Homo sapiens: one gene and its partners. The protein of the gene in region 3 interacts with the protein of the main gene of each other region in a biochemical or structural test. Each region holds a gene or a part of one and is shown on either strand. Other genes may lie near its edges. The genes, in order: DTL, THRA, TDG and RXRA.

What was found.
Region 1: of the proteins of TDG (region 3) and DTL, one has a biochemical effect on the other in vitro, tested with the Homo sapiens proteins (one study listed by BioGRID).
Region 2: the proteins of TDG (region 3) and THRA form a complex in vitro, tested with the Homo sapiens proteins (one study listed by BioGRID).
Region 4: the proteins of TDG (region 3) and RXRA form a complex in vitro, tested with the Homo sapiens proteins (one study listed by BioGRID).

The regions. Positions count from the first base shown.
Region 1 is NC_000001.11:212,066,734-212,073,771, reverse strand, and holds part of DTL (denticleless protein homolog), read right to left. Parts: intron 6,962-7,038; exon of another isoform or gene 6,961-6,961; coding exon 6,887-6,960; intron 5,549-6,886; coding exon 5,445-5,548; intron 5,174-5,444; coding exon 5,069-5,173; intron 1,672-5,068; coding exon 1,559-1,671; intron 1-1,558. UniProt on the Homo sapiens protein: Substrate-specific adapter of a DCX (DDB1-CUL4-X-box) E3 ubiquitin-protein ligase complex required for cell cycle control, DNA damage response and translesion DNA synthesis.
Region 2 is NC_000017.11:40,065,933-40,072,970, reverse strand, and holds part of THRA (thyroid hormone receptor alpha), read right to left. Parts: intron 383-7,038; exon of another isoform or gene 1-382.
Region 3 is NC_000012.12:103,960,955-103,968,871, reverse strand, and holds the start of TDG (G/T mismatch-specific thymine DNA glycosylase), read right to left. Parts: upstream 3,001-7,917; 5' UTR 2,835-3,000; coding exon 2,812-2,834; intron 1-2,811. UniProt on the Homo sapiens protein: DNA glycosylase that plays a key role in active DNA demethylation: specifically recognizes and binds 5-formylcytosine (5fC) and 5-carboxylcytosine (5caC) in the context of CpG sites and mediates their excision through base-excision repair (BER) to install an unmethylated cytosine.
Region 4 is NC_000009.12:134,406,425-134,413,462, reverse strand, and holds part of RXRA (retinoic acid receptor RXR-alpha), read right to left. Parts: intron 6,904-7,038; exon of another isoform or gene 5,971-6,903; intron 5,315-5,970; coding exon 5,164-5,314; intron 4,524-5,163; coding exon 4,344-4,523; intron 1-4,343. UniProt on the Homo sapiens protein: Receptor for retinoic acid that acts as a transcription factor.

The DNA of each region.
Region 1 (7,038 bases), on a different chromosome or scaffold from region 3:
TACTTTATAGGCATTTAAAAATATAACAAAAGAAAGAAATATGCTTGTAGAAAAAGGCAGGCCCAACATAGAAGCATCTTGGATAGAGCAATATTTCCACCCTGTGACTATTTAGGATATTGTTAGTAAAATTTTAATAAAGTAGTGTTGCATTTTCACAACTCCAGTTATATAGAAATCACTTTTCTTTTGTACTTCCCTCAGGATTGGAAGAAATTAAGCTGAAGAATTATGCTTCATACTAAACAGGTTTTACCCCTGTCCTAAAAAAAATTAGCAATATTACTTTCTAGAGCTTGGCAGGATAAAAAATGATATAACTTTCTCTTGAGAAGGGATTTGATACTATCGGAACTATGGGATCTATGAAGTTTTAGACATTATGACTTTAAAACCCAAAATATGTGAACTCTAATCATTCAATTCACCAATGTCAAAGACATTTATGAAGTTACAGGGAAATCTAGAAGATAATTAATTCTTAGTCATGGGTAAACAATGCCTTAATGATCATTCTCTGAATTCCCAGAACATTTCCATAATTAATTATTCCTTCAAGAGACATTTTTCAGTAATAAGCAAGTGCTACCTGTTGTCTAACATTTTTATTTTCTCCACTGGACTTCAAATGGACAGCTTTAAATTTCTTAGCTTACAGTAGACACTTTAGAACTACTGTTATTAAAAAAGTTATTTAAAAGATTATTGGCCAGGCATGGTGGCTCATGCCTGTAATCCCAGCACTTTGGGAGGCCAAGTTGGGCGGATCACGAGGTCAGGAGATCGAGACCATCCTGGCTAACATGGTGAAACCCCGTCTCTACTAAAAATACAAAAGAAATTAGCCGGGCGTGGTGGCAGGCACCTGTAGTCCCAGTTATTCGGGAGGCTGAGGCAGGAGAATGGCGTGAACCTGGGAGGCGGAGCTTGCAGTGAGCCAAGATCGTGCCACTGCACTCCAGCCTGTGCGACAGAGTGAGACTCCATCTCAATAAAAAAAAAAAAAAAAAAGATTAGTAAATAATGCTATTAAATATATAAAAATCTGATAAAGCAGCCATATCTACTTTAGTGGCCTGAAGATCAGCTACTTGTAAGGAGAGAATAAAGAATAAATTAATCATAAAAATATTTTTGAGTTTCTGTTTTGTGCAAGGCTCCATGGGTGATTCAAGCACAGGATCCTAGGGATCAAAATACTGTATTCTGAACGAGAGTTTGAAAACATAGGGCAGAAAGTCAGTATAGCATGTTTTCCAGGATGCAGGACAAAGTAGTTAAGGTTCTTATCACCCTCTGAATTCTCAATTTCCTAATAATTTTTGAAACAGAGGATACAAATTGTCAATTTCTGACAAGCTATGGCCCTGAAAGTGTCATACATTCTGTAGTAGAGTAAGGTTTCAGCTATATTAAGAGCCAAGAGCAACCTTTACTAAATATCTGATGCAGGAATAGTATAGCACGTGGTTACATTAAACTTATCTCATATTGGACAGAACAAATATTTGCAAGAATACTTCAGTCTAACACTTGTGGGTGAAGTTTAGCAACTTACCTTCCATATGTAGGCAGCTTCATCACTTGAGCCACTGACTAAAAACTGGTCATCTGGACTAAGGCTGGATTTTACATAAAAGGTAGAGTTCTGGTGTCCATTGAAAATAGCCACTGCCAGAGGAAAAAAACCAAATTACTTGGCTCTTGTTATTTCTAGTGGTCAAATGGATATAGACAGCATATATATTCTAACAAGTTTTATCACTGTATTGCCTATTGAAGCAGATGATCTAGCTTTATCCATCAAATACAAGGGAACTAGACATTGGCAGAAAAACAAAACCCTAGAAGGAAGCTTTATATTAGATCCAATCTCATGAACTCAGTCTGAGTACTTGGTACGAAAATGGCAATATCAAGAGAAAAAAATTGGAGGGAAAACATTCCTTAAAAAAAGAATCCAGCCAATGTCCAACTTGCAGTAAAATGCCTTTATAAGACCCTCTCTCTCCAGCCCAGGGTAGGATTTTTTCCACTGCATAATATATTCATCTAATTTCCCCTTAGACTTCAGGCCTCTTGAGGATAAATTTTATATCTTACTTTTTCCTCACTAGACTTTATAGTGCTTTGAACAGAGTAGATCCTCAAACATTTGTTCCATGAAAAGGAAAAAAAAAATCAGTGAAAAGTATCATTTGAGTTCTGGTTAAAACTTACTAATAGCTTATGTGGGATGTGAGAATCATTTTAATCCAGCACTTTGAGTAGACTGAATGGTGGAAGAGCTAGTGGAGTAAACTGTTTATATGTAAGGCACTAGATTAGGTTTAGCCTTCTCACTCTCAATGGCAAAAGGGCAGGTAACCCAATCTAGCATATGTTCTTAACAGGTTCTTCTATCCTAAGAAGGTCAAAACCTGAGGCCTCTGACATCAGAACACTACTAGGAAATACAAGAGAAAAATCTCAATTATTGGAGAATTTAAGGATACCTTTAGGCAGGAAAAAACAATCACACTCCAGAGAGAAAAGTATTAGTAGGGGACTTAACAGCTTCCCATAAGTGCTCACAGGAATCTCTTCCATTTTCTAGAATAAAGCTGGAAAAGAACTTTGTATTTATAGCTTTAAAGGAAAAAGCTATGCAGGCATAGCAAATACTCCTCACATCAGACATTTTTACTGTGAAAGTGAGGCAGGATATGAATCAATTTGTATACACCTATTATCACTGCAAAATAAACAAGCTCCTTTATTCTGAACATTGTTCTAAAACTGTAATTTTTAATCTTCCTCAACTCTCAACTATGAATGGAAAACTCTAGCCTGAATTTCCCACTACACCTGTAAGTATTTATTGCCCTCTGCTGGTCTAAGAAAGGCTGGTATGATATGCACTGTAAATGTTTAAACCTTGCTAAAAATCCTCCTAAAATGTATGTTGGCTTTAATGAGCTCAATTTAATCTTGCTTTGGTGATCTGGGCTTTTCAAGTACTTCCAACCAAGTCATCCTTATGAACATATAAACACCATAATACAAAGCATGGTAGATCAAGTATCGAATCCAAGATCGATTCAGAAGTTTTGAAAAGGACAAGTAATTACAAGACGTTACACACACACACACACACAGTTGTCATTCAGTTTTTTTTTTTTGAGACAGGGTCTTACTCTGTCACCCAGGCTGGAGTGCAGTGGCAAGATCATGGCTCACTGAAGACTCAAACCTCCCAGGCTCAAACAATCCTCCTACCTCAGCCTTCCAAGTAGCAGGACTACAGGTGCATGCCACCACATCCAGCTAATTTTTTGCATCTTTTTGTCAAGATGAGGTTTCACCATGTTGCCCAGGCTGGTCTCGAACTCCTGGGCTCAAGTGATCTGCCAGCCTCGGCTTGGGTTTATAGGTGTGAGCCACCATGGCCAGCTGTCATTCAATTTTTAAGGAATAAATCGATCTATTAACCTATCTACCTATCTATCCATCTGCGCAAATGAAATTAAATAGAAGCATAGAAAAGGTTTACTAAATTATTAGCGAAGTGTTGGACAGCAGGACACTAAACTCAAGGACCTTTTCAGTGCCACACTGTAGCAAAAATTATATAGAAAGAGCTCTTGTACATCTGATAATATAATCAGGATCACGCTTTATCTTTCAAGGAAAGATGTTGAAAAGTCTATTTTATTTGACTAACTAAATTAGCAGCTCTCCAAGCTCAGATTCCATTAAGGAAAATAGCAAAAGAAACACCTCTTCCCTTTTCTAAATACTATTGCTCCTGTTTAGAGAAAACTAGACCCAGTGCAAAGTATCAGAAATGCAGACTATGATGCTGCCACCGATACTAAAGTCCTAATAAGATTGCTTGGGGTGATCTTTGGAAAATTCTGTAAGATCTCAGCTAAAATGACAAGTTCTGGGCCGGGCATGGTGGCTCACGCCTGTAATCCCAGCACTTTGGGAGGCTGAGGTGGGTGGATCATGAGGTCAGGAGTTCGAGACCAGCCTGACCAACAAGGTGAAACCCTGCCTTTACTAAAAATACAAAAATTAGCCAGGCATGGTGGCGGGCGCCTGTAATCCCAGCTACTTGGGAGGCTGAGGCAGGAGAATTGCTTGAACCCAGGAGGCGGAGGGTGCAGTGAGCCGAGATCGAACCACTGCACTCCAGCCTGGGCAACAGAGTGAAACTCCGTCTCAAAAAAAAAAAAAAATTTATATCTATATCTACATCTATCTATAAATAAAATAAAACAAGTTCTGTACTTGAGATTTCTTGTTTATCAGCACTTTTTACTTTAGTGGAAACTGGGTAACTCTGAGGATTGGTTATGGAATTCAAAGTGTTTTTGAAAGATCTATAGATGAGGAATAACCAGGCTACTAAGATGTTGCTTAAGAAATTGATGTTCTTAAAAATAATGTAACCCAAATAACTCTCTTAAAGCATGCCTGAGGCTGGTGATTTGGAAGAGGGAGGGGAGAGGATTAAAAAAAAGAGGAAAGCATGCTTGAGAAACTTGGGTTTTCTTTTTAAAACTATCATTTATTTATTAGTTTTAAGTATCAGATTCTATTTTTAAAGTTTTGAGGAAAAAAAAAAGGTGAGGCTGGGGAAAACATCTAGAAATAAAAGGGCCTCTAACATTAAGGAGAAGGCTGAGATAGGCTGAAACTATTTTGGGGGTATGAAAATTTCAGCCCCCTAATTTTAACCAGCAGCCCCTAAAGAGGAAAAAAGCTGAGCAGAAGCACTTTATCTACTCCACAGCTTATTAAATAAAAAATTGAGAGAATTCTAAATATAGGCCAAAGGGCATAATTTCAGGAGATACTCTCTATTAAAATAAAGTCACCATGTAAAGCACAATTCAGCTAACTTATGAAATCATCACAAGGAATGTACACTTATGAAATTATCACTGGATGTAATCAAAGATGCCAAAGTCCTCATATGGCTTAATAAGTTCAGTTTAGAAGAAAGCCCATTAAATTATCATTACCAAAAAAAGCCCATAATGCTTTCCTGGTAAGAGAATTTGAATGACTAATATCTTACCTGGAGAAGTCTTCAACCCAGTCATATTAAACATGTAGATGTTATCGTCTGTGCAATTAGCAAATAAAGTAGAGCCAGTGGAATCCAAAATCAGACTTGAATATCCTGGAAAAAGGAAACTTAAGTTAGCACGTCCTGATGATGGTGAGTAGATCTGAGGTTAAAATGTAGAGACAAAAATAGATCATTTCATAAGAATCATCATCAGAATTCTTTGTCCCCAAAATATACACAAACCAAAAACATTCTTCTGAGTTTTTATCTTTTGAACTTCACATATTAGAATTTTTCATATCAATGTTACTGGAAATTAGCCTTTTTTTTTTTTTTTAAACAAAAACTCTTATCTCCCCCAAAAGACCTATTAAAGGCTTACCAAGTTTTCGAGTGCTGCTACCTGGGTACAGGAAAGACTTGGATGCTATGGGTTCTTGTCGATAAGCAGTATAATTCTTACGTAAATCCCATACTTTGATTATCCTAAAAACCAAGGCAAATAAATATTTTGTAGACCTTCTTCCAACCCCAAACAACTTCAACTACACTAAATGTGAAATGACTTTTAATCTAACTCCTCTGGCACATTAACTAGGTACAGTAAGGATATTTCATTGGGAAACAAATTAAAGTATCTTATACTGTTGTCTCCAATATCAGGCTTATAATTCTGACAGAACGGAAACAGATGTGATTTGACCCAGTGATGGGTTACTGGAGTTTACTCTAAGAGAACGGAAAAGGAAGATGAAGGTTGAGTGCCGATAGTAATTGTTCCATTGTTTTTAGAAAATACACTTCCTAAGCCTTTAATATTCTGCATATATTTTTGATATCATAAGTAGCAAGTTCTGTCCCTGTGGTTATATCTCCATACATAACTCTTTAAATAATCTAAACAAATTGTTCTGTGAAATAAAGTATTTTTTCATTTCATCTATTGAGATAATTGTCTTAATCCTCTACTTCTAGTATAAAGGTAACTTGAAAACACAGACCTGCTATGAAATGACAGTATTCTTGGAAACAAACAGAGCAAGCTTTCACAGTCATTCACAAGCAGAACTAATAACCTTTAGATAATCCTTCATTCCTGCCTGAGAATTTGGTTCAGAGGGTTTTAGTGCCCAGAGGACACAATGGAAATCCTAGTTTGGTAAGCCATCATCTTTTAAATTAAAAATTTTAAGAGAAGGATGCCTTGAGAGATATAATAGGAAGGAAACTTAAAAAGAAAGAGTCTCCATTTGCATAGAATTAATATTCTACAACACAATCAACAAGCATCACAGAGCAGACTTATTTGGAAGCCAAGAATTCAGACTAATCATGGATGACAGGTATGTGAAAGTCATTAGACCTTACTATCATCAATCTAGTTAGATTACTCCCAGAAATGTCAATTACATCCCCAGAATCAGATTTCTTCTTTTAGGATATTCTTAAACCTGAAAAAGACAAAACCCAAAGTAACAGAAATTTTACTCTTCAAAATGAGAATTAGTGACTAAATTATATTGCATAAGGCAAGCAAGCTACCCAGCCAGCTTCTTTTCTAAGATAGCAACAGCAGCTACCACTGCTCTTATGTGCTAGACAATGTGCTAAGCGTGACACATGTATTCTTTCATTTAATTATCCAGCAAGAGTCCTTCAACTAGGTATTTTCCAATGTGATCTATAGCTCCTTTCCTCAGTTGGGGTACTTGCTATGTTGACAGTTGAAAGCACACACATTCAATTATAATGAGACTATGTGACTGCCTCATCACAATCTCATAAAAAAGATCTCGTCGGAAGAAAAAAGAAATAGACTCTTACCCATCCACAGCTCCTGCTGAGACTAAGGTATTCTCGTCTTGAAAGAGGACCACAGTAACACTTTGCTGGAAATCCTGATAGCACAAGAAAAGAAGAAGATTCTATCTTGGGCATCATAATCTTTACCATCAAGGGAACAAGGTGCTAAAAAA
Region 2 (7,038 bases), on a different chromosome or scaffold from region 3:
GTGGCCCGTTCTACCTCTGATACCCACCCCAGACCAGGACTGGGCACTGGGGGCTGGACAGGAGACTGGGGTGGGGGGGCATGAGCAGGGAGCCTTAGCCCAGGGAGCCATCAAGAAAGTAGGTCAAGTTTTTCTTGGCTTGTGGAGAAATTCCTGTTATAAATTTATAATGGCGTAGCCAGCCCTAAGGGGTGGAGGTTGGGGAGGAGAAGGAGTGGGTGGGGAAGCCCAGGGGCTGGGCACTGGGGCCTAATGCTCTCAGCCAGACAGTGAGGGGCAGGGGGCGAGGGCCGCTACGGGGGTTGGGCTGGACAATAGAGGACGATCTTCTGACTCCACGTCCAGCGAGGCTGCCTGCATGTCTGTCTGTCTGTCTGTGTCTGAATGTCTCTCTCTCCGGGTCTGGGTGTCTCCGTCTGCCCCCCAGGCTGTGCCTCGGTGCTTGGCACACCCTGGCTGTGGTGCTGCCCCCGCCTGTCTCCTGCCCGCCTGGCACACTGCCACCACTTGTTTACAGAAGCTGGAAAAATCCACTCGCCAGCCGGAGGCCCAAGCGCCCCCAGGGAGGGGAGGAGGCAAGCACAGGAGTGGGCATGCTGAGAGAGGGGCAGCCCCGGGGAGCAGGTCCTGGGGGCAGCCGAGGAGGACCAGTGTGTGCAGGAATGAGCACTGGCTGCTGTGGGCCGGGCCAGGCGGGGAACACCAGTGGCAGCCACATGGCATGGGCAGCTCCTGCCCCAGGCCAGGGCTCCTGAGGGTCCCCTCCCCCAGGCCCCTGCCACTTACCAGTTGCTACATTGCAGACCTGGAGCAGTGCCAACCTAAGCCACCATGTTTATTTCCCCATCCCTCTCTCCTGCCCAGCCTTAACTCCAAATGTGTCTGGGTACTGCCAAGGGCCTGCACGTGCCCACTGGGGGGAGGGGCAGACTCGCTCTCTGCCCCACCCCTCTTTTGAACTGAATGGTGCCCTGGTGCTGGGCAGTGCAGCCCAGCTACAGTCAGCCCCTGGTAGTGGGCAGAGGAGCAAGGTGCTGCCCTTGCTGCCTAGGGCACCCTCACTGGGTACCCAGAAAGAGGCTGGAACCCCTGGGGACTCCTTGGCATCTCTCCAGGGACACACTTGGGCCTTTGGGGTGATACAGAGGCGAGGCAGAGGGCCCAGCATGTGGGGAGACACATACCACATGAGCCTGTGTTAGCCACGGACAGAAAAAGGTCAGCGGGTAAGGGGCATGGGGCAGGGGTACCCACCCTGAAGGGCAGCCTCTCACCCCTCCTCCAGAGTCCAGCTTAACTCCCCAAACTCCTTCCTGGTACCTCCTCTGCAGAGGCGAGGGAGGCCCTGCCCCAAGGAGGCCGAGGGGGCGGAGCTATGGGGTTCTGTGCCCAGGCTGGACAGCAGGACAGCAAGACCCACCTGTCGGCTGGCCTGGCCACCCACTCCCTCCTTGTGAGATAAGAGCTGCTGGGAGGCAGTGTAGGCAAAGTGCCCGTGGAGGGGGAAGCATTTCATTAAGCTTAAGTACTTCTGCCATGGGGGGACAGGGACACGGGGCCAATGCGGCATCCACGGGCGCCCCGCCAGGTTCCCACTGCCGAGCCGTCCCACTCTGCAGTCCTGTATATCTGAGGACACCCCCAAAGGACTCCTGGGGCTGCCAGAGGGGAGTTTCTGTCCCCAGGATCTAACCCCCAATACTACCCGCATTAACCCTCCTGCGTATCTGCTCTGGGCTTTGGCCCCACCTTTCTGGGGCCCCTGAACTTTGTCCTTAGTGCTCTGAAGAAAGCCCAGCCCTCCTTGCCAGCCACAGGGACACGTACATGCGGGGCGGCTGAGAAAAGGGTGGAAAGATGGGAGGAGGGGTAAAAAGGCTGGTGGGGGAAAGAGGGAAGAAGGGAGGAGGGGGAAGAACAAAGAAATGGGACAGGGCTGGGGTAGAGCTAGGGGTGACAAGGCAGTAGAGGGAGAGGAAGAAAGGGGAGCCAGAGATGGGGGATGGGGAGAAGGGGTGAGGTAGAAAGGAGGACAGATAAAGGGAGGAGAGACACATGAAGGAGGGGAGACAAAGAGAGAAAGGTAACAAAGAAAGATGGGTGGGGGGCTTCGTACCCTGTCTAAGTCCCACCCCATGCAGGCTGGGGGGAGGGGGGCGTAGGAATGGTTTCCACGGTGACAGCTGGTTCTTGGTGGCCTGGCATGTGGGCTATTAATAGTTCTGTGGGTAGGTTCACACCTCCCTCTCCCCTTCCCCTCTGCCTGCTGCTAGGGTGGGGGGAGATCCCTCCCCCACCACCCACTCCTGATCACCCAGCCTCCCACCATGGGAGCCAGGAAGGGCGATGCTGAGGGGCCGGGGCGGCCACCGTGGCCCAGACACATAAATGGGCATGCATGGGCACAGGCGTCTATGGGCAGCACTGCCCCCCATGCCAACACGGGCACCACAGGCAGCCACCCACACCAAGGGCCCCTGGGAGTCTGTGGTGGTGGCAGTGCTGCAGCAGCGACATGTGCCCCCATGCTGAGGGGCAGAGGCCTCTCTAGGACCGGGACTCCCTGTCCTTTCCCATACCCCCTGTTCTATTCTCAGGTATGGATTGAGCAGGGCTGCCCCACCCAACTCTCTGTTATCCTAGTGCCAGGAAGGAGAGGAGGAGTGAAGGCGGGAAGGAAGGTACTATTTGGCAGGTGTGATGTGGCAGAGGAGTACACACAGACTCAGGGCCCCAGCCTGGCAGGCATGGGGGAGACGGGAGGAGGGGAGGCGGCACCCCTTGGTGAGCTCTCACTGGGCCCCCAGGAGACAGGTTCTGGAGCTGGGGGGCAGTGACTCATCACCTAGCCACTGTGGGACCTTAGAGGCTAGAGAATGGGAGATGGGGTGGGGATCCTCATAAGGGGGAGATTGGTTACTTAAACAAAGGATCCTCCCCACCCCGCCCCAAAAGAATATAACAGGAAACCCCCCCTGCAGGTCAGAGACAGAAAGACATAAACAGCAGCCTTGACTTGGGCCAGATGCCCAGTATTAACATCAAAGACTGCTTCCCACTCGGCTCCCCCATAGCCTCACCCACCTGCTGCTCTCCTCTCCCTCCTCCTGCCCGGGCCAGCTCCAGCCAGGCATCAAGGTGGGTGCCCAGGTCTGGAGGTCTCCTCCCAGGTCACATCCATCCCCCATGACCACTGGTGGGTGGTCATGCCCACACCCATGCTGGAGAACTCAGCCCCTCCTTATCAGCCCACAGAACTTCACGCCCCCCCTGCCCAATTCCCCTCAGGAATGGAGGCAGGAGATCCAAGTAGCCAAGAAAGCAGAAGCAGGAGCACCCCCAAGCTGGGCACGGCACATTCTCCCCACCCTCCCCCAGCAGCCAGCGGGTAATTGGAGCTGGGAGCTGGGGCAGCTGAATGCTGGAGGCATGAATGTCACGGGGCCAAGGCACTTGCTGCAGATGGCACCATGGGCACAAGGCTTGGGGTCCTCCCTCCTCACTCCCTCATCTAAGGCAGTAGAAGAAGTTGCCTGCAAGCCCTGAAGAGCATGGCCTAGGAGGGGAGGGAATGGTGGAGGGGGAAAGAAAGGGAGGGATGTTCTCCCAGGCACCCCAGAGGCTGGAGCTAGCCCCTAACCAAGCAGAACTGGCAGAGGCAGAGAGAGAGAGACAGAGACAGAGACAGAGAGACAGGGACAGAAAGGGAGGAGGGAGGGAATAGGAAGGAGGGAGGAAGGGGGAGGGAAGAGAGAAAGATTGAGAGTGTGTGTGTGAGAGAGAGAGAGGGAGGGAGAGAAGGAGGGAGAGACAGAGAGGGGGAGGGGGAGAGAGAGAGGGAGAGGGAAGAGGAAGGGAGGGAGGGAGAGAGAGAGGGAGGGAGAGAGGGAGGGAGAGAGCGCGCGCGTGAATGCAGCTGAGTCTCCGGCACACACACGGACACGTGCAGACACACACACTCACCCCGCATGCGCAGAGCCACAGGGCTCTGGGTACCGTTCCAGGAGATATTCAGAGCCCTCCCCAGCCCACACATGCACAAAAACACTCTCACATGGATGCGTGCACAACACACCCACTCACTGATGTGTACAAAAATGCCGAAAGACACCAAAGCCTCGGTTCCCCTGTTTCCCCACCCCCATGCCTGGTAAAAGAGAAAAAGAAACAGGCAGCTGGGGCTCTGGGAGCCAAGAGCCGATCTCTTCTTTAGAAGAGGAAAAGAGGAGGAGGAGGAGGTGGGCCAGGGGCTTGGTCCAATCATTCTGCTCTTGGCCACTGCTGAGGGGCATGGCTGAGGCTTTGGTATCAACCTTTAATGCCCACCCCCAAAACAGCGAAGCAAGGATAGTATTTCCTGGGCACCAGTAACACCCATCTTGCTTCCCTTGTCTACCCAGCAAACTTCTGACCCTCCCTCTGGACCACCTCACGCAATGGCATACCGGAGGGAGGTCCCTATGACCCCAGCTTTGGCCTGCCAAGTGACACCAAGGTGGAACCACATGTGCCCCCACCACACACCAGCCCCAGATACTTCAGTGAGAGACTGAGAACTGTCTCTGGTTCCAGGCAGCATGTGTATGCCCCACCCTGGCATGTGCCAGGCCCTGGGAAAAAAGGAGAATCCACAGGCATTGCTCACCATGCCAGGATGCAACATGGATTGAACACAGGGGTCATCCCACCTTGTGTTATTTGCCCTCAACCTGAGTGAGACAGGAACCATTGTCTCTAGATAATGAAAACCCAGGCCCAAAGTCATACGACTAGTGAATGTCAACAGCCAGGCCTCCCAACTCCCAGCCAGTGATCTTCCCACCACGGTCATGCTTGCCTCCCTCCCCAAGAGACACAACAGTTCTCCAAAGTCCCCTAGACACCTTTGCAGCCATGAGAACTAGAGTTGGGTTTTTTGTTTTGTTTTCTGTCTGTTTTGAGAGGATGTGTGTGTGGGGGGTCTCACTCTGTTGTTCAGGCTAGAGTGCAGTGGCACAATCACAGCTCACCGCAGCCTCGACCTTCCAGGCTTAAGCGATCCTCCGGCCTCAGCCTCCCAAGTAGCTGGTAACACAGGCATGCGCCACCACACCTGGCTAACTTTTTAAAGTTGTTTTTAGAGATGGGGTCTCACTATGTTGACCAGGCTGATCATGAACTACTGGCCTCAAGTGATCCTCCCGCCTTGGCCTCCCAAAATATTGAGATTACAGGCATGAGCCACTGTGCCCAGCCGAGAACTAGAGTTGAGATTGGTTCCCACTCCAAAGGCTTCCCGTCACCCCTACAGGGTATCCTCCCATTGTCCTTCCTTCACCTTGAGGGGCAGGGCTAAATAAAAGGGGTTTGGAGAGGGGATCCTGATCACCAGACTCACAAAGGCAAAGAGGCAACCCAGGACAGATGCTGGATCTCAAAGTGCTGTGCCCACCACACTGGTCATTACTCAGTGCTTCAGTTTCTCTCTGCCACCACCTTTCACACTAAGTACCACTCCATGGAGGGCAGGGGAATCTGGTGCCTATCAGCCAGAGCTGGGTCCTGGTTGACCAATGCTGGGCTCCCAGGAGGGAGGAAGGGCACTGCCTCCTCTTTGAGCCCACACATAAGAGAGGGGACGGCTTTCCTTGTTCTCTCTCTCCCACCCCCAGAGCTCAGACCCTGAACAGAGATGCAGTGATGCCCAAAGATTTATGCAGGTGCCCCTAGCTGGTGGGGTGTGTCCCAGGCTGAGGGGCCAAGGGCTCCTTGTAAGCTGAAGGGCGAGGGTCAAAGGAGGGTGGGGCAGAGGGGCCTGCCTTGGGCTCTTTCCCATACACTCATTCCAGGCTGCAAAAATTTGTCTGGGAGGAAAAGATTACATGACGGTGAGAAGGCTGGAAATTGGAGACCCACTGCCCCAGGCCCCAGTCTCACTGATGTCTAGGAGACCCAATTCTCCACGAAGCTTCTCTAAGAAATCTGGGAGACCCCAGGCCCACAGCTTCCTTCACCCATCACAACCGCTCACATATACAGTTTGTTATGAACTAGGCACTTTTAAAAACATTTTTCCTCAAAAAAGCTAAATGAGGTAGATATGATCATCCCCAATTTACAGATGAGGCAACGGGGAAGTTAAATCGCTTGCTCAAAGTCACACATCCAGCAAGTGACAGAGCTGGGATTCAGACCTAGGCAGTCCAGGTCAATCATGGCCGTCATGATCATCACCATCATCTCTGTTCTTAGCTGTGATGGTATATCACCTGCTTGATAGATAATGCCTTGTTCTTTTTTGTTTTTCTTTTTTTTTTTTTTTTTTTTTGAGACGGAGTCTCGCTCTGTCACCCAGTCTGTAGTGCAGTGGTACAATCTCAGCTCACTGCAACCTCCACCTCCTGGGTTCAAGCGATTCTCCTGCCTCAGCCTCCTGAGTAGCTGGGATTACAGGACCCCGCCACCACACCCAGCTAAGTTTTGTATTTTTAGTAGAGATGGGGTTTCACCATCTTGGTCAGACTGGTCTTGAACTCCTGACCTCAGGTGATCTGCCTGCCTCCGCCTCCCAGTGTGCTAGGATTACGGGTGTGAGCCACTGTGCCCGGCCCAATGCCTTGTTCTTTCATCCAGCTATGTGTTCCCTGAGACCAAGCCTCAGTCTTTCCCCTCTGTAGCTGCCCTGTGGGTTCTCTGCCAAGTGCCTCCACCTCCAAATAGTCCAAGGCTAGAGGGGAGCATAGCGAGAAGTGCTTGGTGCCCCCGGGCTCGATGTCTCCTGCCTGAGTTCCCCCTCCTCAAATTCCCTCTCCAGAAGAGGTACCCCTTCTAGGCTGGAACCTGCACTCACGGGTGGGAGGGCCTCGCTTAGTACATACTTAGTCTAGGCAGCTGTGCCCTCAGAACCAGGCCCTGAGGCTGGGCAAAAAGGACACAGCTGTTGGGCATCTCTGAGGTGGGCCTCAGCTGCCAGGGGTGTGGAGAAAGGCCATTGTGAGCCCTGCAGTGGACCCAACTCAGCAGGGTCCTGCCAGCTCCCGCCACTGCCCATGGGGGCGG
Region 3 (7,917 bases):
CAGGCGTCAGCCACTGTGCCCGGTCAATTAGTTTCTTTTAAAAATGCTCAGTAACCATTGATTAAGTAAAAATTTTGTTCAGGATCAATGTCAACAGAGGACAGACTCCACCTCTGGAAGAACAGGAACCCACGTGTTTATTTCCAGGTCCCTTACATTTGCTACAAATCCTCTAACACTGCTTTAATCTGGCCTCTCCCTTGAAACACAACACACGCAGGCCAAGGCATATGATTCTGTTAGAACACCTGAAACTTCTCCTAAATGCCTTCACTGGTCTTGAGCTTTAAGTCTTACAGATATTCATTCTGCCATTTCCAGTCAGACAATCATTTTGCTAACATAGGAGATGTAAAATCCAAATCAGAACAAAGTACTTAGGTGTTCTGTTGTCTGCTGCCACCATGCCAGTAGACTGGGGAGAAAACCCAAATCTTTTTTATTCTTCTTGTTGTCAACATCTAACCAAAACAGTCCTTCCTGGTCTCCTTAACATTTCTATAAAGTCTACTCTCATGCAAGGGTTAATCTTTCCTGTTGGTATTCTTAGTGGTCCATGCTACTCTCTTCCAGTTACTTTTGATTTGGCATCCTATTTTCCATCTTCGGTAAATGTCTTTTTCACGCCTGAGGTCACGGGAAACTCCCCAGTACCCTTAGAAAATTCCTCCTTTATTCCTCTCTGGTTGATTGACTGTAAGCACTTTCTAAGACTCCTGAACTATTTTGCCATTGAAATAAAGTCTAGGCTGGGCGCTTTGGCTCATGCTTGTAATCCCAGCACTTTGGGAGGCCAAAGTGATCACTTGAAGCCAGGAGTTCAAGACCCGCCTGGCCAAAATGGTGAAACCTCGTCTCTGCTAAATATACAAAAAATTAGCTGGGCGTGGTGTTGGGTACCTGTAGTCCCAGATGCTTGGGAGGCTGAGGCATGAGAATCGCTTAAACTCGGGAAGCAGAGGTTGCAGTGAACGGTGATCGCACCACTGTACTCCATCTTGGGCAACAGAGTGAAACTCTGTCTCAAAAAAAAAAAAAAACAAAAAAAAAAGTCTGTATTCATGGAATTTGAATTTTCTTCTTTGAATATCTGAAATTAGTCTTCTAAAAAAGTCGGCTGGGCCCGGTGGCTCACATTTGTAATCCTAGCACTTTGGGAGGCCGAGGCAGGTGGATCACTTGAGGGCAAGAGTTCAAGACCAGCCTGGCCAACATGGTGAAACCCTGTCTCTACTAAAAATACAAAAATTAGCCAGGCCTGGTGGCAGGTGCCTGTAATCCCAGCTACTTGGGAGGCTGCAGCGGGAGAATCGCTTGAACCCGGGTGATGGAGGTTGCAGTGAGCCAAGATCCGCCACTGCACTCCAGCCTGGGCAACAGAGCAAGGCTCTGTCTCAAAAAAAAAAAAAAAAAAAGTAAATTTATTTTTTTTCACATCCCACATTACATTTCTTGATTAGCACAGTCAAGGGTGACAGAGAACTACTCTCTTAAGGATTACCTGGGGTCTGAGTCATTTCAGAAGATTACACAGAATTTTCCACAGTTCCTGAAGGTGAAAGCTTTTCAAGGCAAAATAAAATCTGGTCTATAGCCTTTTGGATGAAGTCAGGCCGACATATCACAGCTTTGAGCTAAACAGTGTATTGAAGTCCTACTATTTTGCTGTAAGACCCTGAATAAAGTCTTACAATGTGTAATTTATTCTTGGCCCAAGTTTCAATTCTGCTCTTAAGTGAGGTTATGAGAGAGAGATTTCCACAAATTCTGGTGAATTCTCTTATTTGTAAAGTTCTTCTGGGAAAGAAGTGGAGTAATTTATTCCAGGACTTGATCCACAAAGTCAAGATAAAGTCCACACTTTGTCTACATATATCTCTTTTCCTAAGCTCTAATTTATTTTGGTTAGTGTGCCCTTTCATGTAACACCAATTCTCGGCATGTCAGAATCAGATTCCAGACATGCCAACTTTACAGACATGAACAGGCCCATATAAGTCCCTTGTATTGCCTAAATTCAGCTCCCATTAGCCACTGAGAGTCAGGATAATTCTTCATTAGGCATAGGTTTTTTTCCTTTTAATTTCAATGTAAATCATCACTCTTTATCTTTTAAAAAACTGTCACCATATCCATTTTTTAAAAATTTAGTCTTCCGCCAGGAGTTCAAGTCCCTAAATCTCCTGCTTTTGCAAATTTTTCTCTTGACTCCCCCAAAGGACTTTTTAAAAACGGATTCTTAAGATCGTCCCCAAGGCCACTGGAAAACTCAAAGGTCATTTTTAGATTGACTACTCGAGAGTGTATACATATGCCCACAACAAAATTATCTAACCCGTGACCCTTAAAGTTGCTTTCAGTAGGCCTTTGGGGTGGGGGGAAGCCGCAACAAATCAACCAACTTTAAAATGAAAACTCCTGGAGCTGGAAATGTTCGACACTCATCTTTACAGCTCTCTGCGTGGTAATGGAGGGTGACGGAAAACCCTTCTAGCCAAGAATGGCATCCAGAAAGACACATTAACCAAAGACTGCTGAATGCTTACTAATATATTTTATAGTCAACTGGTTATCGCGGGGAACCAAAGAAGGGTCCAGGTGCACCAGGTAACCCTCAGAGCAGCCCCGACCTCCACCACCACCGCCGCAGCCAGGGAAGGAAAGGCCGACCAGGCCACAGTGCGCACGCGCGGCCCCGGCCTTTGTATTCCGGCCGGGATTTAAAAGACCCCTGCGTGCGCGCGCGCGCGCCAGCCAGCCTGCCCAGCAGTGAGGGGCGCAAGGGAGGGGCGGCGCTGGCCCCGGTATTACCTGCCCGCGTTCTCCGCTTCCATTCCCCGAGGCCGCTGATGCGGGCGGCTCCACCTGCCGGGCACACGGGCAGCCGGTCTCTGTAGTACCGCGTGGTACTCACTGCGGTAAGACAACCCCAGAGACCTGGGCCCGATGGCTGGCAGTACCCAGACAGTGGCTGGACTCAAGCTCCTCCTCCAGGCTTCTACCGTCCCCCACGGACCCCCTTTCTGTGCTGCACTTCCGCCTCCTCGGAGCCAAATCCCACGCGTACTGGCCGTCACGTGATGTAGGACAGCCCAATCACGCTCACCCCCTTCTCGTTGGCGCCCCAGCTCCGCCGCTTGGCCTTTCGGGAAGGGTGGAGGACCAGAAGACGGGGACTAGGAGCGCTCTGCCGACGTCAGCTTTTGTCTCCAGTATTTTCGGGGGCTGGTGGACGCGTGGGCGATAGGGTGCTGTCCTTGGGGTGCTGTGTATATGGGATGATGACGCTTATCAGCATTATCTAGTCCTTTCCACCCCGAAATTCGCCCCGATTAAAGACTGTGTTGCATTATCAGGTAATGAGATGTGAGGGAGGGTCTTTGAAAGTGGAAAACCTGGGCGTCGAGGCCACTGTGCCATCTTGGGCCTCAGTTTCCTTATCTGTGAAATGAGGGTGAATGTAAAGCTGCTATGTAAAATGTAAAGCTCTACATAAACCACTCTCCGCATTACTTTGGATATATGAGAATATTAACGTTTGACGTCTACGAGACTAGATCCCATTCGAGCATCACCTCCCATAACCTTACAGACTAACCCCTCTTTTAAATCTCAGTGGTTCGTAATCTTACAGACTAACCCCTCTTTTATGTCTCAGTGGTTCTTGCAGCTGGCTTTTGTTTCATTAGTTCTCAATTTCTGTCACTGGTGTTTGTACTTTATTAAGGAACTCTTAATGGAATAGGCTTTTGGGTTTTTCTAGTTTGCAGGATGATGAAAAACATGGCTGCTGTATTTGTTGGCTTTCCTGAGTTTATTCATATAGTAACAGGTAACTCCAAACCTTCAGTGGTTTACAGCCACAGAAGTTTATTTCTCACTCACGTGATCTGTGAGCTGGGAGATGGCTGTGGCTCTGTGCTCCATGTATTTTCTTCATTCTAGGATCCAGGCTTTCGTGAGTAAATACAGAAAGATTTTTGTAATATATCAACTGTTTAAAGTTTGAGTGAAACGTTTAAAACAGTACAGAACTTTTATGAATACCCTGTCCATTAGTAGACACTACTCAGAACCTGGCACATGGTAAATATTCAATGAATATATGTTGAGTGAATGAAAAAAGCCCATCCTCTCTGATTTTGCCAATGGCTCAGGACCATCGTCTAGAAAAGTCTTACAGCAGGTGGCTTGCCTCAGTTATTTCAGGGCATCCAGAAAGACACATTAACCAAAGACTGCTGAATGCTTTGGGAGAGAATTCTGGTGACTGAAAATGTGTGTGAAGAGAGTAAACTTTTCTCAGGATGTCTGCACTCGGGGAATTACCCTTGGCAGCAAGGGCTTCTCTCACTGTGGGTTGCTGTGCTGGGTCCTGCCAGCTCCATTCATAACCTCAAGAGACCAGGGTCCTCTGCCCAATCTTGCATGGCAAAAGAAAGTTAACGTGAGGAGGCCGGGCGTGGTGGCTCATGCCTGTAATCCCAGCACTTTGGGAGGCCGAGGCGGGTGGATCACCTGAGGTCAGGAGTTGGAGACCCACCTGGCCAACATGTCGAAACCCCATCTCTGTCACCTGTAGTCCCAGCTACTCGGGAGGCTGAGGTGGGAGAATCGCTTGAACCAGGGAGGCAGAGGTTGCAGTGAGCTGAGATCGAACCACTGCCCTCCAGCCTGGGCTACAGAGTGAGACTCCGTCTCAAAAAAAAAAAAAAAAAAAAAAAAAAAAAAAAAAAAAAAGCTTATGGGAGGAGTTGTCGGTGAGGACACTGAACCTAAAAATGGTGAAGCAGTTGCAGCAAACTGGCTTTTATCCCATCAGTGTCTCTCTCTCAACATCCTGCATCTGAGTCTGGAAGACAAACTTTTTCTGCTTGTGAACCTGGCCCACCAGAGCTTTTAGCAATCTGGAAACAGAACTGGGAACTTCCTTGTAAACTTCCTGAAGATTGATAAATGACATCTATAAAAAAAAAAACAATTTGTCTTTGTTCATTGCTCTGGTGCTGGTTTATGTAGAAAATCCTGTGGAACCTACAAAAAACCTAGTACAGCTAATAGGTGAGATTCGCAAGGTTGCAAGATAAAATATCAATATAGGAAGATCAATTGTAATTTATGTACTAACAACAAACAATTAGAAAAAATACCATTCACAATAGCATCAAAAATATGAAATATTTAAGGATAGAGCTGACAAAAGACGCAAGATTTCTATCATAAAAAGTGAAAAGCATTGCTGGTAGAAATTGGGTAAGAACTAAATAAGTACACGGATATGTTGTATTCATGGATCAGAAGACCAAATATTGTGAAGATGTTTAAAGATTCAATATAATGCTAACCAAAATCCAGGTAAGCGTTTTTGGGTAGAAATTGACAAAATGATTCTAAAATTTATATGGAAATGCAAAGATCTAGAATAGCCAAAGCTGGGAGAGCTAATACTGCCTGACTTAAGAATTATTATAAGGCTACAGTAATCAAGACAGTGTTAGCCGGGCGCAGTGGCTCATGCCTGTAACCCCAGCACTTTGGGAGGCCGAGGCGGGCAGATCACCCAAGGCCAGAAGTTCGAGAACGGCCTGGCCAGCATGGTGAAACCCCGTCTCTGCTAAAAAACTACAAAAATTAGCCAGATGTGGTGGCACATGCCTGTAGTCCCAGCTACTCAGGAGGCTGGGATGGGAGAATCGCTTGAACCCAGGAGGTGGAGGTTGCAGTGAGCTGAGATCATGCCACTGCATTCTAGCCTGGGCAACAGAATGATTCCCTGTCTCAAAAAAAAAAAAAAAAAGTGTAGTATTAGCATCAAGAGAGAGAAATATATATCAGTGCAACAGAATAGAGTCCAGAAATAGACACATACATGGACAAGTGATGAACTGATTTTCAACTAAGCTTCAAAGGTAGTTCAGATATCTATATGCAAAAACAAAACAAAGTTGTATGCATGACACAGGGCAGGCAAGCCCTTAGCCCAGGAGTGTTCTTGGCTTCACCCAGGAAATAAATCAAGAGTGAGCTGAAAACAGTTTTATTCAGGCAGCAGTGTTACAACTCCAAGACTGCTCCTGCAGAGCAAGGCTGCCCCATAGGCAGTGTGCTCAGAGTAGCAGCTCAGACGCAGTTCTGCAGTCATATTTATACCCACTTCTAATTATATGCAAATCAAGGGGCTGAGTGTGCAGAAATTTCTAGAAAAAGGGAGGTAACTTTTGGGTCAGTGGGTCATTACCATGGAAAGGAGTGGTAGCATCTGGGTGTTGCCATGGCAAAGCTAAACTGACAGGGCACATTAGTTGGTGTGTTTTATGGAGAAGAGCTTCCACCTCTTCCCTGTTTTAGCTGGTCCTCAATCTGGTCCTGTGTCCAAGCTCCACCTTGGGAGTCAAGTCGCACCTCCTGCCTCACACCATATAAAAAAACAAAATGGATCATGGACTTAAATGTAAAACCCAAAGCTGTAAAATTTCTAGAAGAAAATATAGAAGACAATATTTATGACCCTGGGTTATATTTTTTAAATATAATACAAAAGGAAAAATTGATAAATTATACTTTATTAAAATTAAAAACTTCTCTTAAAAAATTAATGAAAAGCAATAAACTGGGAGAAAATATTTGCAGATCATATCTGATAAAGGACTTGTGTCCAGAACATATAAAAGAACACTCAAAACCCATAAGAAAACAACTCAGTTTTATAAATGAGCAAAAGATTTGAACAGATACATCACCAAAGAAAATAGAAGCACAAGAAAATATGGTCATTTGTCATATTCTGAGAAATGTCACTAGGTGATTTTTTCATTGTGACAATGTTACAGAGTGTACTTCCACAAATCTAGATGGTACAGCCTACTGTATACCTAGGCTATATTGTATGGCCTGTGGTTCCTAGGCTACAAACCTGTTCAGCATGTTACTATAGTGAATACTGTAGGCAATTGTAACACAATGGTAAGTATGTATCTAAACATAGGAAAGGTACAGTAAAAATACAGTATTAGGCCCAGCACGGTGGCTCACGCCTGTAATCCCAGCACTTTGGGAGGCCGAGGCATGTGGATCACCTGAGCTCAGGAGTTCAAGAACACCCTGGGCAACATGGTGAAACCCTATCTTTACTAAAATACAAAGAAAACTTAGCTGGGCGTAGTGGCGGGCACCTGTAGTCCCAGCTACTCGGGAGGCTGAGGCAGGAAAATCGCTTGAACCTGGCAAGCAGAGGTTGCAATGAGCCGAGATTGAGCCACTGCACTCTAGCCTGGGCAACAGAGCGAGACTCTGTCTCAAAACAACAACAACAACAACAACAACAACAACAACAAAACCAAACAGTATTAAAGATAAAAAATGTAGCAGGCACTTACCATGAATGGAGTTTGCAGAACTCCTTGTTGCTCTGGGTGAGTCAGTGAGTGCGAAGGTCTAGGACATTGCTGTACGCTACTGTAGACTTTATAAACACTGTACACCTAGGCTACACTAAGTTTATTAAAAAGTAATTTTCTTTGTTCAATAATATATTAACCTTAGCTTTCTGTAACTTTATAGACTTTTTAATTTTTTAAACTTTTGACCTTTTTGTAATAACACTTAGCTTAAAACACACATTGTACAGCTATAAACAATTTCTTATATCCTTATTCTATAAGCCTTTTTTCTGTTTTTAATTTTTTTTTTTTACTTTTAAAAATTTTGTGAAAAACTTAAGACACAAACACACACATTAGCCTAGGCCTACACAGGGTCAAGATCGTCAGTATCACTGTCTTCCACCTCCACATCCTGGAAGGTCTTCAAGGGCAATAACCCACAGGGAGTCGTCATCTCCTATGATAACAATGCTTTCTGGAGTACCTTGTGAAGGATCCGGCCGAGGCTGTTTTACAGTTAACTTTCCTTTTTTTT
Region 4 (7,038 bases), on a different chromosome or scaffold from region 3:
AGTGACTTACCTTCCCTCCAGGGCTTCAACCTAGAGCAAGGCATCAGAACACGAGAACCATGCACACACACGTGCACACAAACCATGCAGACATACACACACAGACACACAGAGACATACCACACCACACATACCACACCACAGACATATCACACACACACCACACGCACACCCATACACCACACAGACATACCACACCCACACCCACACGTGACCACTGCTCTCCAACCCCACCACCAGCCACGCACAGCACTCTCATCCACCCCCAAGCTCGCAGGGGTCTTCCTGATGCCCCCAGCCCATCACAGATGAGGAACCTGAGGACTGGGCGAGGCAAGGTCACTTGCCCAGTTCACAGGCCAGAAGGCAAGAGGGCCACACTCGAGCCCAGCCGGGGCTCCCTTCCCACAGCAGAGACCTGTGGGTCAGCCACATCCCTGCAGTGCACGCACATGCACACACGTGCACACATAGGTGCACACACGCCAGACCCTGCTGTTTCCACACCCAGTCCTTCAGAGCTGGAGGGTGGGCACAGGAAGCAAAGGCAGGCAGGAAGGAAATGGGAAGCAGCCTTCCTGAGGGAGGAGGAGGAAGCAGAATGGGGGACAGCCACTGCCCCCTCTAGACCAATGTCTCCCCCGACGACCCTGGGTGGAAGCTAGGTCTTTTCCATCGGACTGGGAACCCCCAAGGGTGAGGCCTGTCTTCCCCATCAGAGCACGTGTCCCTGCGGGACCCCCAACCCCTGCCCCCTCCCCGGCTTCAGCAAACAGGCCCAGGCTCAGCTTGGCAGAGGGCCAACACCCACCACTGCACGTCCCCCCACCTCTGCCCACCCCTGGTCCCGGGAATGCTGCGGAACGAGTCCCTCCTGGTGGCTGCCTGCGCGTGCAGGCCCCATTGCCCAACCTGAGATGCTATCAGCCTGTGGTATCCTACCGCATAGGGGTGGGAACCCATCTGCCCCAGAGCCAGAGTGGGCCTTTGCCGGGGGCAGAGTCACCGCATGGGGGCACCTGGGCCATCCTGCCTTCAGCCAGCCCTGGGACCAACCCCAGGCGACTCCCTCGCAGCACTGCACTGGGATGCGACGCCTCAGCTCCAGCCTGTTTCTAGGGGTCTGATCACAAACCGGGCCGAGGGACCACTTGACACCAAGGCCAGTGGGCGGAGCTGCCCACCAGGGGGCCTGACACTTAGGAGGGCTCAGTCCCCAGAGCCGACAGCTCCCATCCTGCATGCTCTGGGCCACAGGCACCTAGTGTTGGCCAACTTGGCCCCATAGCTTTCTCCAGGGCTGCTGCAATGCCTCACCCATGCAGCCAACAGCCCTGCCCTCCGCTGTCGGGGAGCCTGCCTTGCAGTGGTTTGCCCAAGAGGAGAGAGGGGAGTGCTCTGCACTTCAGGACCCATCTGGAGCCAAGGGGTCTTGCCCAGCACCCAGACGCAGGCCGGGGAGGAGGGTGCCTGCCAAGCCCTCCCAGCCACCGTTTCCACGTGGGGTCCCTGCAGGGCGAGTGCCTGGGCTGCACCAGGGGCCCCGTTACTGCCCAAGAGTAAGGAGCTCCACAGGCCTGGCTGTGCAGCCCACACAGCCAGGCTGGGGGAGGCAAGAGACTCCCCCTGTGCACAAGGAGAGGCACTGGCAGCAGGGCACGTTTGGCACGGGGGCCTCACTGCCTCCTCACCGCCCACGCAGAGGTGCCCTCCACACCGAGGCTGAGTTCTGCAGCTGTGTTTGGGGCGAGAGCGCTCGGCAGCATTCTGACTGCAAGTTCACGCCTCAGAATCCTGCTGGAGGCAAAGGGGAGGAGGTCCCTTGACAGCAGCAGCAGTTTCTCTCACGGCCCTAAGTCTGGTCTCCAGGGCTTATGCGCTGCCAAGAGGAAGGACTGGAAGCAGGAAGGACCGGCAAGAAATGGGGGCCACGCCTGGTGCTGGCCCTTAGACCTCCCCACGGCTCACCTCTCTATACCCCATTTCTCTGTCTCACAGGTATGGGGCGAGTGAGACCATGTGTGGGGATCAGGAAGGGGGTGTCCAGGGTGGTCCCCCACATGAGCTGCTCCTAACAGGACCCAGTCACCGATGGGCACCAGGGGAGCGGTCTGACCAGGTGATTCCAGGTCCCCCCAGCCCCAACACTGCACGGTTCCACTGGGATGGGATGGGGTGTCGTCCCCAGGCTTTGGGGGGCCCAGGCAGCTGGAGTCTGATGATCCCAGGCACATGGATGACTGGGCTGCAGGGCCTTAGGAAGGAGTCAGTGCAGCCTGGAGGGTCCGGGACGGGGCTCAGAAAGGCCATCACCGACTTCCGAGGGCCAGGTGTGATGACAGCCTCAGACTTCACGGACACTGCTCCCTGCAGCCAGGCCTGTGGTGCCGACACCTTTTCATTCCTCAGGCGTCAACAGCCCTCCTGCCTGCCTGCGTCTCACCGGGTGCCCGAGGCAGGGTCAGGTGCCTCCTCTGGGCTCCCACAGTGCCTGAGCTTCCCCTAAGCCTGCACTGGCTGCCCCCTGGGCCCCCCCTGGTTATCTGATGATCACTTTCAAAGGACAGCGAGCTTACTGCTGCAGGCCCAGGCCAGGCATCAGCCATGCACAGCGCTCTCATCTGCCCCCAAGCTCGCAGGGGTCTCCCTGAAGCCCCCAGGATCTGAGAGTGGTCTCGGCTAAACCAAGCTCTCTGTGCTGTGGCATCCTCACAGAGACTGCCAGGCTAAGGCTGCACACGAGGCCTTCCCCCCCCAGCTCCAGCCACGCCTCGGGCCTCCACCCCAGAACAGGCCAGTCTCCACGCCTGGGCACAGGGGCCCCGGCCACTGCCTACTATGCCTGCCCCTGTCCCAGTTTCCATCTTCCAGGGACAAGGCTGCACCTGCCACCACAGCAAGCCTCCCTGCCCACACCAGGCACCCGGAAGAACCAGACTGGGTCCACACCTCTCCAGGCTGGGTACACACCTCTCCAGGCTGGGCACACACCTCTCCAGGCTGGGCACATGCTCCTCTGCCCTCTGGTGAAAGCAACAAGGTCTGGATGGGGGCCAGGGCCCAGCATGTGACCCTGCGCAAGGCTTGAACCGTCTGCCCTCGGTTTCCCAACCTGCACAGCACAGGGTGGGCCTGAGCAAACGTCAGCACTCCATGAAACACGAATCCCCATCAGAAAGGCCTGACTGGCAGCACTGGGCATGGCCACACCAGCTCTGGAAGGCAGCTCTGCTATGCAGGCACAAGGACCTCACACCAGCCCATACACCACACTCAGCCTCGCAGCCCAAGGAGGACACCCTCCAGGAGCACGGCGCCTGGCAGAGGCTCTGATTTCTCAACAGGACCGTTAAGGCTGAGAAGACATACACAAGAGAGATGATGAAATGAAACTGCAGCACCAAGGTGGCCACTCAGGACATCCCTGACGGTGAGACAGTGGTGTGGGTCCTGTTTGGGGACCCCACCAGGGGCTGGCGGGGAGGAAGTAAGACACACCAGCCACACAGGTGTTGGGCCTCAGGAGCAGCACAGCAGAGGACAGAGGAAGGGTGTCCTGCAGAGCGGGGGGACAGGGACAGACCAACAGATCTTCACCCCAGACAGCACCTCCCACCTCCACAAGGCCCAGGGCACGGGACCCGATGGGAGGAACTGAGGCACACCCCCAAACGTGTGTGCAAACCATGACCCAGGGACCCACTAAGAGGCCAGGAATCGCCAAACCTGAGAGGGAAAGGGGATGTGACAGATGGGGAAACTGAGGACTACAGCCAGCCAGGACTGGGAAGTCACAGTGCCTGTGGGGCCCGGGACTCCGACCCAGGTCTGGCTGGATGACTTGACAATTTTGGTGACATCGGGGGAGGGACTTCCCTGCAAACCGCCCCGACACAGATTTGTTAATAAGACGAGCACAAAAACAAAAGGAAAGGAGGAACTGCTCCAAGAGCCTGGGGGCCATCCGGCGGCCCTGCGGGGTGCCACAGAGTTGGCCTCGGGAGGAAGCTGGCCCGGGACCACCCCTGGCATCCAACAGCTCAGAAGATGCCCCCGCTCCACCTCTCCAACCTAAGCAGTGCCACCTGAGGGTCTCCTTGACCATCCCCTCACCGGACAGCCAACGCCAGCCAGAACATGCCGCCCAGGACCCATGTGTGCCCACGCTCTGGGCCGCACGTGTGCCCACGCGCTGGGCCCCGCCCCCACTCCTGCCTTGGCCTTGCCATGCTTCTGTCCAGGCCACTCACTCCCTGTTGTCCATCTCGGGTGTCCACGCACAAGCCCGGGCCCCACTGTTTGTCCAACACCTGCCCGCGCCCCCACCCGACGCCGTGGCCTACCTTCCCGCTTCATGCCCATGGCCAGGCACTTCTGGTAGCGGCAGTACTGGCACCGGTTCCGCTGCCGCTTGTCAATCAGGCAGTCCTTGTTGTCGCGGCAGGTGTAGGTCAGGTCCTTGCGCACCGTCCGCTTGAAGAAGCCCTTGCACCCCTCGCAGCTGTACACTCCATAGTGCTTGCCTGCGGGACAGGGCAGAGCAGGGCTGGGGAGCACCCACCGCCCCGGCAGGGAGCCCACCCCCCATCCAACGCCGCCACTACCAGCTGGCGGGCCAGGCCTCAGAAAGGGACCTGCTGGTCTCCAGACCCCTGCCTGGGCTCAGACTGGGCCCCAGCCTCACTCTCTCTGCTCCTCCGAGGACAGCTTAGGAGTGGGGCAGGGACAAATCCCAGCCCACCAGGGACCAGGGCCCCAGGCAAGTCACCTGCTCTGTGTCTGCACTGTGCAGCCCGTTCTTCCCTCTCAGGCCGTTGGGGGTCAGTGGCACAACACGGGCCCCTTGCCCAGACCCAGCCAAGGGAGGAGGCGCAGCACTGGCTGCCCCCATGCTGACCTTGCCATCAGCAGCCACCTCCTCTCCGGAAGCCTCAGGCTGCCCTGTGCCCCACCCCACCCAACACTCACTGTCCCACAGACGTGAGAACCCTGGAATGGCCTCGCGGAGCCCTGGGAGTGGGGCATGGCCCAGGCACCTGCCTCCCTGCACCCTGGCCTTGGGTCCTGCTTGGCCCACAGGAGGGTGATTTGGGGAGGCCTCCAGACCCTGCAATGGCCTGACAACCCTGTCCCACCAGCCCCTGGCCCCCACAGCAGCGGTACCTGAGGAGCGGTCCCCGCAGATGGCGCAGATGTGCTTGGTGAAGGAAGCCATGTTTCCTGAGGGGTGGGCGGGGACCTTGAGGACGCCATTGAGGCCCAGGGGGGGCTTGATGTCCTCGCTGCTGCTGACGGGGTTCATAGGTGAGCTGAGCTGGGGGGGGCAACCACAGCAGTCAGCGGGGTGTACACCAGGTTTGTCCCTATGTCCCCCACGGCCCTGCAGCAAGGATGGCGCAGCTGTACCCCCAACTTCACACACAGACACCGAGGCTAGAGAGGGCCGTGCCCCCCACCCGCCACGCTGCTCCGGAGCAGCGGGGCCACTGTGCTTGCTCAGCAAGGCCAGCAGAGGCTGTGGCAACCTCAGGACTCGCCCGCAGCAGACCCCAGGCCTCTGTGGAAAAGGACCTTCAACACCCCCCCCAACACATGGGCGGTCCCTGCTTGCAACCCCCTGCCCGCTGCCCACCTAAATGAGAGCTGCCTCTCATTACTGAGCCCCTGGCAGTGCCCAGCCCCGCTGGGTGCCCCCGGACACTCCATGAGGCAGGCACTCTGGGGGGTCCCAACCCACACATGAGGACGCCGAAGCCCAGTTCCCAGGACGGAGGAGGGCTGGGGACCCCCCCAAGAACCACACATACACCCCACAACACCGCAGGGCAGGGGCCCTGGTCACGTGACCCAGGAGAGGGGAGTGGACACCCCCGGGCATCGGGTGGCACGACACCACTGGCCTCTCTGCACACCCCTCCGCCCCACCCGCCGGCCCGCACGCTGCCGCCCGGGCAAGCGTGGGAAACTCACCCGGTCACCCTGGCAACAGCTGCAGCGTGCAGTGACACAGCAGTTTTGGTTCCGCTGCCTCCACCCAGCTCTGCAGTCAGCGCCGAGGACCCACAGGCGCTTCCCGCTGCAGCCTGCCAGCCAGCCTGGCTGCGCAGGGCGGTAAGCGCTTGGCCAGGCAGCCCCCAGCCTCCACTTCTGCAAACCCCTGCCGCCGCTTGTGCGCAGGAAGCTCCCCTCCTTCCTTCCTCAGGCCTCCAAATCCCATCCCCCCTTCTCACGGGACAGGAAGAGTTTGAGGCTCAATGCAAGCAAAGCAGAAACCACCGCAAAGCCTCCTTTCACATGGACCTCGGTGCCTGGAATGAGTCTTCCAGCCCCAGCTTGTTCTGGCTTCTAGGTTCTTCCTCGATCTGCCCAGGTGGGCTGTGAGGCTTTACAAGGATGCTTGGTCCCTGCAGGACTCAGGTGGGCTGCGAGAGGCCAGGAGGTCCCCCGTGACAACTCAGCACAGTGGGGGTGCCATGAAGCTCCCACTGGAGAAGCGGGTGGCCACTGTGTGACTCACCAAATGCCCAGTGTTCATGTCCACAGGCAGCAGGTGCGCTTCTCAGAGAAGGGAGGGAACTGAAGGGGCAAGAGAAAGCCCCAGACGTCTGCAGAGGGGTGCGGTGCCTGGGCTTTGCACCCACACTTGACACTCCCTGCATGGGAAACCCTGGGTGTCCCAGATGCAGAGGCTGCGGCTCAGGGAGGTCAGGGGCTGGCCAAGGTCACACATGATCCCCCACGCTGCAGAAGGCGAAAGTGAAGCCCCTGGAGGGACAGAGCTCGTCCAAACTAAGTGCCCAGCTGGCCCTGCCCCGTGCTGGGCTCCGGGAGGCACCAGGGGACAAGGCCCTGCCCAGCCCTCCAGGGCTCGCTGGTCTAGTGGCTGTCTCGCTTGGAGGCACTGGAGGCCCCAGAGGCGGATCCCTGGCTCCGGATTCTGCCTGCCTCCTACGTTCTCGTGTGACATTCGGAAAATGATTTAATCACTGTGAGCCTGAGTTTCCTCGTCGGCAAAACTGGAACCATGTTAGTGCCTAC